Homo sapiens: one gene and its partner. The protein of the gene in region 1 interacts with the protein of each later gene in a biochemical or structural test. Each region holds a gene or a part of one and is shown on either strand. Other genes may lie near its edges.

Evidence for each region.
Region 2: the proteins of COL4A5 (region 1) and ANTXR2 form a complex in vitro, tested with the Homo sapiens proteins (one study listed by BioGRID).

Annotation. Positions count from the first base shown.
Region 1 is NC_000023.11:108,596,838-108,600,756, reverse strand, and holds part of COL4A5 (collagen alpha-5(IV) chain isoform 2 precursor), read right to left. Parts: intron 3,760-3,919; coding exon 3,689-3,759; intron 3,381-3,688; coding exon 3,189-3,380; intron 2,056-3,188; coding exon 1,887-2,055; intron 1-1,886. UniProt on the Homo sapiens protein: Type IV collagen is the major structural component of glomerular basement membranes (GBM), forming a 'chicken-wire' meshwork together with laminins, proteoglycans and entactin/nidogen.
Region 2 is NC_000004.12:80,071,787-80,075,705, reverse strand, and holds the start of ANTXR2 (anthrax toxin receptor 2 isoform 1 precursor), read left to right. Parts: upstream 1-2,476; 5' UTR 2,477-3,145; coding exon 3,146-3,297; intron 3,298-3,919.

The DNA of each region.
Region 1 (3,919 bases):
GCCTACTGTGGGATTTCTCAGCCTCCATAATCATGTAAGTCAATTCCCATAATAAATCACCTCTCATCTATCTATCTATCTATCTATCTATCTATCTATCTATCTATCTATCTAATCTACCCATCTGTCCATCCTTTTTATTGGTTCTGTTTCTCTGGAAACCCCTAAAACAGGGTGTTACCTATATAAGTATTTTTAAAATGTAGGCCAAAAGAGCATTAAAAATCAAACTGTAGTAAACAAGGAAAATATTTTTTTGGCTAATAGGTACATTTAGGTTTTACATGTGCAAAGTTCAAGTATATCTACTTCTTATTAATGGAAACATGAACTTGAAATTGGCTCAAGAAAAAAAAGATTTCCTAAACATGACACAAAAAGCACTAACCATGAGAGAAAAGATTGATAATTTTGATGATGTGAAAGTTGTTTTCTGCTCATTGAAGACACCAAACAAAGAGTAAAAATGGCAAGCCACAGTAGGTAAAGATTTCTTTTCGCAAAATACATAGGTAACTAAGAACTAATGCACAGAATATATAAAGAACTCCTCTAAATCAATAAAAAAAGAAATAATCCAATATAAAATTGGTCAAAGTACTTGATTAGGCATTTCACAAAAGCAAATTCAAATGACCAATAAACACATGAAAAGGTGCTAAACTTTAATCAGAGAAATGCAAAATATCACACTCAACAGATTGGCAAAAGTGTAAAAGTCCGACAATACAAATTGTTTCCAAGGATGTAAATCAACATAAAATATTCAACACTGCTTGTGGTAGTAAAAATTGGTACAATTGGTCTGGATAGAGTTTGTAATTATCCAGTCAAGTGGAAGATGCACTTATCCTATGCTTTGAAAATGCTAATCTTAAATACATACCCTAGCCCAGGTATTGGTAAGCCTTTTGTGTAAAGGACCAGAGTAAATACTTTAGGCTTTGTGGACCATCCAGTCTCTGTAGCAACTACTCAACTCTTCAGTTGTAGTGCAAAAACAACCACAGACAAAAGTGAATGGTTGTGGAAGTGTTCACATAAAACTTTTATTTATAACAGGTGGTAGGCTGGATGTGGTCCATGGACTGTAGTTCTGTAGTGTGCCAACTCTTGCCCTAGAGAAGTGTGAGCACATGAACACAAGGAGATATAGGGATCTATCTATCTACCTAGCTATCTATCTATATGACTGTAAACAGAAGCATTATTCATAATAGACCTGAACTGTAAATAACCCAATTAACCATTAACCATAGAATGGATCAATCAACTGTAACACACACACACACACACACATAAACATACATACAATGAAATACTATATAGCAATAAAAATGAATACACTATAGCCACACGAAAAGTTAATATAAAAAACACTTACCCTATGATTCCTTTAACATGAAGTTCAAAAAGAAACAAAATTAAAATACTCTGTTTAAAAATGCATACAGAGGTCATAAAACAGAGGGGTAATGGAAGAAAACTATGTAAAAGTCAAGACAGCAGACAGGAGGAAGGGGATTGTGATTAGGAAATGACAGGGAGAAAAGGTTAGGGGTTTCTAGGATGCTGGTAACATTCTATTTTTTGATGTGTGTGGTAGCTACCTGTGTGCTTCTGTTATAACTATTTATTAAACTTTGCATTATGTATCATGTACTTAAAAAGAGCAAAATTAACAGTAACAATGAAACAGTTAGAAAAGATTTAAAAAGAAACCCCCTTATAAAAACCATTGTGATCCCTTGCTAAGATGCTCTGAAGAGTTCAAATATAAACGGCCAGGGAAACACACCTCTCGGGAAAGGAAGCCATGAGTAGCCAAAACATAATAAATTTCTGTTTTTAAGCACCAAGTTTAAAACAAAACACAGTAAACTTACCTGGTATTCCTGGCTGGCCTGGATTTCCTGCCACACCTTGTATGCCTTTTTCACCTACTGGGCCTGGAGGGCCGAAACCAGGGGGACCCATAGGCCCTATATTCCCTGGGAGGCCTGGTAAACCTGGGTTCCCAGGGGGACCTCTTTCACCCTTAAAAGTAATTCCACCCTAAAAAGGGAAAAGTTTAATACAGAAACATATAGATACAACAACTATCTGTAGGTTGGTACTGAATACAACTGGGGAAAGGATATAGCCATAAATAGTTCTTCTTAAAAGCTATATAAGTGAGTGGTATTATGAGATGGTATGTGTGATCATTCCACTTACTCATTCCTCCAACAAATATTTTTGGGCTCCTACTATGTGTCAAGTGCTGGTGATACAACAGAAAACAAAAATACACAAAAATCTCTGACTTTATGCAGCTTACATTTTAGTGTAAGTCAGAAAGGTTATAGTCTAGATAACATTATAAAATATCACTTCCTACCTAAATATCCTGGGCTGTGTGTTATGTACAAAATAAGATTGTTCATTTATGTTAAATCTTTCAGTTCTGTGGCACATTGAACATGGCTATCTACTTGTACTATTCTCTAAGCTTACTATATATATAGAAACAAGTTAAACTGCTGGTTATGAGGTTTATTTATTTATTTATTTATTTAATTTATTGTGATGGAGTTTTGCTCTTGTTGCCCAGGGTGGAGTGCAGTGGTGCAATCTCGGCTCACTGCAACCTCCGCCTCCCGGGTTCAAGTGATTCTCCTGCCTCAGCCTCCCGAGTAGCTGGGATTACAGGCGCCCACCACCATGCCCGGCTAATTTTTGTGTTTTTAGTAGAGACAGGGTTTCACCATGTTGGCCAGGCTGGTCTCGAACTCCTGACCTCAGGTGATCCGCCCACCTCAGCCTCGCAAAGTGCTGGGATTACAGGTGTGAGCCACCATGCCCAGTCATGAGGTTTAAGTAAACCCAAGGAAAGATATGTGGGGGTTAAGAGATGGGGAACCTTATACTGTCTCATAAACATCTTAACCTCCTGCCCACCTATTCATAGAAAATAGTATTCAATATTAATGGGTTAAGAAAAATAAGTTTACAAAACAAGTGAAAGAAAAGAGTAGTGCAGAAACCCTACGTAGTCAGTAACAATGTGCCATTACTGTATGGTCACATTGTTTTAAGCATTGATTGGGTGTTTATCTCAGCATCAGTCCCATCCTTTGAATTAACTTAGAAAACATTTCTAAGTGAAAATTTAACATCACAAAACCAAAAATATCAAACCAACTCACAGGCTCTCCTTTCGGGCCAGGAAGCCCTGGCAATCCATCCTGTCCAGGAGTGCCAGGTAAACCAGGAAGCCCTGGAGCTCCAGGGGAACCCAACTCTCCTTTGTCACCCTTCATTCCTGGAAAAGTGAGGATATCACCAGGTTCACCTTTAGATCCAGGAAAGCCTGGAGCACCTGGAGCTCCTGGAATGCCCTGAAATGAGTAAGGAAAAAAAGAAAAAAGAGTGGAAAAAGAAGAAAGAGAAAAAGAAAATCAGTTTCTTTTTTTCTAACATTTTCTTCTCTCCAGTTTACCCCTTCAACCCATCCAATAACATTTAATGTACAAAGGGCTGAATCAAGTGAGGCATGTGAGTCAGGAAGAGTCAAGGAATCAAACAAAGTACAACTTAATGGAAAAATTAAATTGTATATGTGTGTATATATATGAATAATTGAAAATCAATGTGTAAAATGCCTTCCTTCTACTTCTTTTTGTTTTATAATATACTCAAAACTTACTGGTAATCCTTTGGGACCAGTTGCACCAGCTTGTCCTTTTTCCCCTTTCTGTCCAGGGAAACCAAGAGATCCTAACACACACACACACAAACAAACACACACACACACAATAACGTAAGCTTTGAGCTTGAACTCCTGACAAAGCTCATACAGAAATCATCAAGTCAGAAAGTCAAGTTTTTAAAATAAGAACCCCATTCAATCCCATTTAAGTCACATTTGTATTTTCCT
Region 2 (3,919 bases), on another chromosome or scaffold:
TGGAATTTCCATCCCCAAGTGACCAGTTGGCAAAGAGTGAGAAGGGATGTTAGCCACCCTCCATTCAATGTTTGACATTTGTAATGAGCATATTTTCAAAATGGAGGTCTGCCGGTATATATTGAAGTTTTCATCCATTCATAATTCTCAGGTTAGTTGCTATAGTGATGATGGTCCAAGGTACCATTTTATTTTGCCTTTGTTAAAATAGAGATGATAAGACTGACAGAATGTACTCTGTGTTCATAAGACACCAAATTATAAACAAGACCTAAGACCATGCCAGGCAAAGGTCAAGTCACACACTCCTACACTTAAAAAATAAACTATATTCTAACTGCCAAAAGGGTTTTCTTTTTCTCTAGCATCTAAACAAACACTGGCCTCCAGATAAGCAATATTGAAACAATTGCATCTTACTGACTGCAAGACACTAACTAATTAATCCTCCACCCCTACCCCTGTTCCACAAGCCATAACTACAGCTCTGACTGGACAAGAGACTGATTTTAATAACTCTCCTGATAAGAGACCACTGACCATAGACTGGTTCTGGCTGGTTTACAGAGGCTGTGGCACTGAGTGCCTTCATGTCTTCTGTTTCACCTTTTGACATATAGGGCCTAATTATAATACATTTAATTGTTAAGTCTCCACCTCAAAGTGAACATGAGACATATGCAACTTGCATGTTTGCTTACTATTCATGTTTGCTTACTAAACATGCATGTTGCATATGTCCCATGTTCACTTTGATGTGGAAACTTAACCCACCTGCTTCAGAAATATGCATAGTTCATGTACCCCTTGCTTCAGAAATATTCATAGTTCCTCCTATAACCTGTTGAATATGTATACTTGGCCAACTCATTTAGCATAAATTCCTGTTCCACCCTTTCCTCCCTCAAAGTGCCTGCTTTTTGTCTCTGCCAGAGGCTACACTTCCCAGCCTGTCAAGATGTCCAGCCTGCAGCTGTAACCCTTTATAAGAAATGAAGTTCTCCTTTCCAAATTTATGAACCTCAGGATTGTTTGTCAACATGTTGCTACTGCAATAGTCTCCTAACTGCTCTCCCTGTTGTCACTGTTGCTAACTCCAAATTCATTGTCTCATTGCAGCCAGAATGATCTTTGAAAAACACAGATCATATCAATTCATCTGCCACTCCACTCCTGGGCTTAAACCCCTCTAATAACCTCCTGTCACACTCAATATTAAATATCTGAATTCCTTATCTCAGTAAACAAAGCATCACATAATCTGGCCCTTGCCTATTTGTCTTACATCATCTTACCTGCAAAGCTCCAGCTACACAGTTTTTTTTTTTTCTTTTTTGAATATGCTAAGCTAATGTCTATGGACCTTTGCAGTAACTCCAAATGTTTCCCCTTAGAGCTCTTGGAATGACTGGGTCTTTTTTGTTAGTCACTGAGTCTGTCATTCTTTATCATCACAATATTTTAAATTTCTACAGGCCACCTTTCCAATATGGACATTTTTTTTCCTTGCTTATGTATTTATTTCTTATTGTCTGTTTTCACTCTTCAGCCAGACTGTCAGCTTCATGAAAGCAAGGGCTTGTTATCTTGTTCTGTGCACTAACCTCCACTTCTGGAACAGTGCCTAGCAAATAATAGGCACTCAATGAATCTTTGTTAAAGTAACTAATTTTTATCTTCAAAGAGCTGACATATCTGGTTGTATATCAAATATAATAAATGAAAAGTTAAATACATATGGCAACAAACAGAAGAGATGTATATGTAAGTACTACATAAAGCATTGATTTTGTTAAAAATGAAAAGGTATTTAGGTTCTAAAAGCCAGTTTTGACTAAGGGAGGGCGGAAGTCACGGAGGTGGGGGGAAGAGAGAGGAGGGAGAGCAGAACTAGTAGACAGAGGATTTGTGCACAAACTTGAGTGCTTGCACAAGTTTTGCAAAGGAGACCTAGCTTGCCCAAAGCTGAAATTCTCCAAAACTGGAGCTTGCAGGGAAATGACAGTGGGCTGAAATATTTTGAGGTACAACTTTCCACTCCCAAAGAGGCCTGCTATCCCCTCCCACTCCCCACTCCGGCCTTTCCTTGGCTTGGCTTTTTTTAAAGAAAAAAAAAAAAAAAACTAAGCAGGTTTCTTTAGAAGAAAAAGAGGAAGTTCATAAAGAGTGTTTGTGGTAGTAGGGGTGGGGTGGAGTGAGGAGTGAGGAGGCCGTCACCTCCCATGGAATCCTTAGTCTTGGGTTTGTGAACCACGCATGGGGGCTGTTTTAGCACAGCTGCTAAAATAGGCCAGGCCTGCAGGACATACGGGTATGTTTAGTTTCTAGATAACTTTTGTTTTTCTAAACTCCTTCTTCCCTTTCCCAAATCTGGCAAGCGTTAGTCATCTTCAACTCGGCAGGAACCCACAAGTGTGCATGTGTGGCTCGGAGGCTTCAGCTGGGGCCCCGCCCTCGTCCCCAGGCGCACACTGACACACGCAGCCCAGACCCGGCCCGAGCGGGCTCCTGCCCTCGGCGTGGCTTCTCTCCAGCCGGGAGTCCCAGGGCCAGCTAGCCTCCTCCCCTAAAGGGGACGGCCTGTCAGCGCAGTGCCAGAGTCCAGCACCGGGAGGAAAGTTTCGGAGTGCGGAGGGAGTTGGGGCCGCCGGAGGAGAAGAGTCTCCACTCCTAGTTTGTTCTGCCGTCGCCGCGTCCCAGGGACCCCTTGTCCCGAAGCGCACGGCAGCGGGGGGGACTTCAGCCCTCCAGGCGGGGTGGGTTCCAGGTCCGGGTCCGAGGCGGGCGCTGGAGGCTCGGCCCCAGGCCGGAGAGGAACTCCTTTCGCGAGCTGTCGCCGTGGGCCCGCATTGTCTGCAGGAACTCTCCGGAATCGGGAGGGGGAGGACTGGATCGCGCTTCCACTGGGATTCGTCAAGAGTTCCGGCGGCAGCTGCGGCGGTGGCGGAGACTCCCTTTGTCCTCTCAGGACCTCCCTCTCTCCCTCCCTGTCAGCTGGTGGGTCCCGCTGCCGCAGGCGCCGGCGTCTCAGCTGCTCGCCGCCCCCCACCCCAGAGTGCGTGCCGGGTGACTCCCGCCACCTTTGCGACCCTCCTGAGCTTAGGGGACTGCGAGCGGGAGGGAGTCTCAGGCCCCCGGCCGCAGGATGGTGGCGGAGCGGTCCCCGGCCCGCAGCCCCGGGAGCTGGCTGTTCCCCGGGCTGTGGCTGTTGGTGCTCAGCGGTCCCGGGGGGCTGCTGCGCGCCCAGGAGCAGCCCTCCTGCAGAAGAGCCTTTGATCTCTACTTCGTCCTGGACAAGTGAGTGTGCGAGGGAGGTCCAGGGTCTCCTGGTGAGGGCGGCACTGGATCAGCTGGGGCTGAGGCTGAGATGCGTGTGCGCACCCCGGGGAGTGGTGTTGGAAACCCGCGGAGGGGTGCCCTGTTGCTGTCTTCTTTCAAAGGGCAAGCGCGTTCGGATCTGTGTGGGCGGAGATCAGCCGGGTCGGGGGTAGTGATTGGAGCCCCGGGCTACTTGGCTCTTTGGGGAGTTGGGGTATTCACTGTTTGCCAGTCTTTTGGCCTCTTGGGAAATGGGAGTGTGGCCTCTTGCGGGCCACGCTCCATCGGCCACAGAGTCCTTACCCACCTCCTCGACCCTGCTCGTACGCAGGCTAAAGTTTGCCTGGTTTTATCCTAATCATAGCGCTTTCATTGGAGCCAGGAAAAGCCTAGGGTTAACATGCCCAATGTGGTTTGCATTTCCTGCGAAGAAAGGCTTTTGTGTTTACTCTGAAGAGCTGGGTTCCACTCTAAACAATTAGGCAGGTATTTACCCACCCCAGAAAACGGGCTGACTTCTTCTTCTTCTTTTTTTTTTTGACGGAGTCTTGCTCTGGGACTGACTTCTTTAACTCTGGGTACCACCAAAGTTTCAGCTACA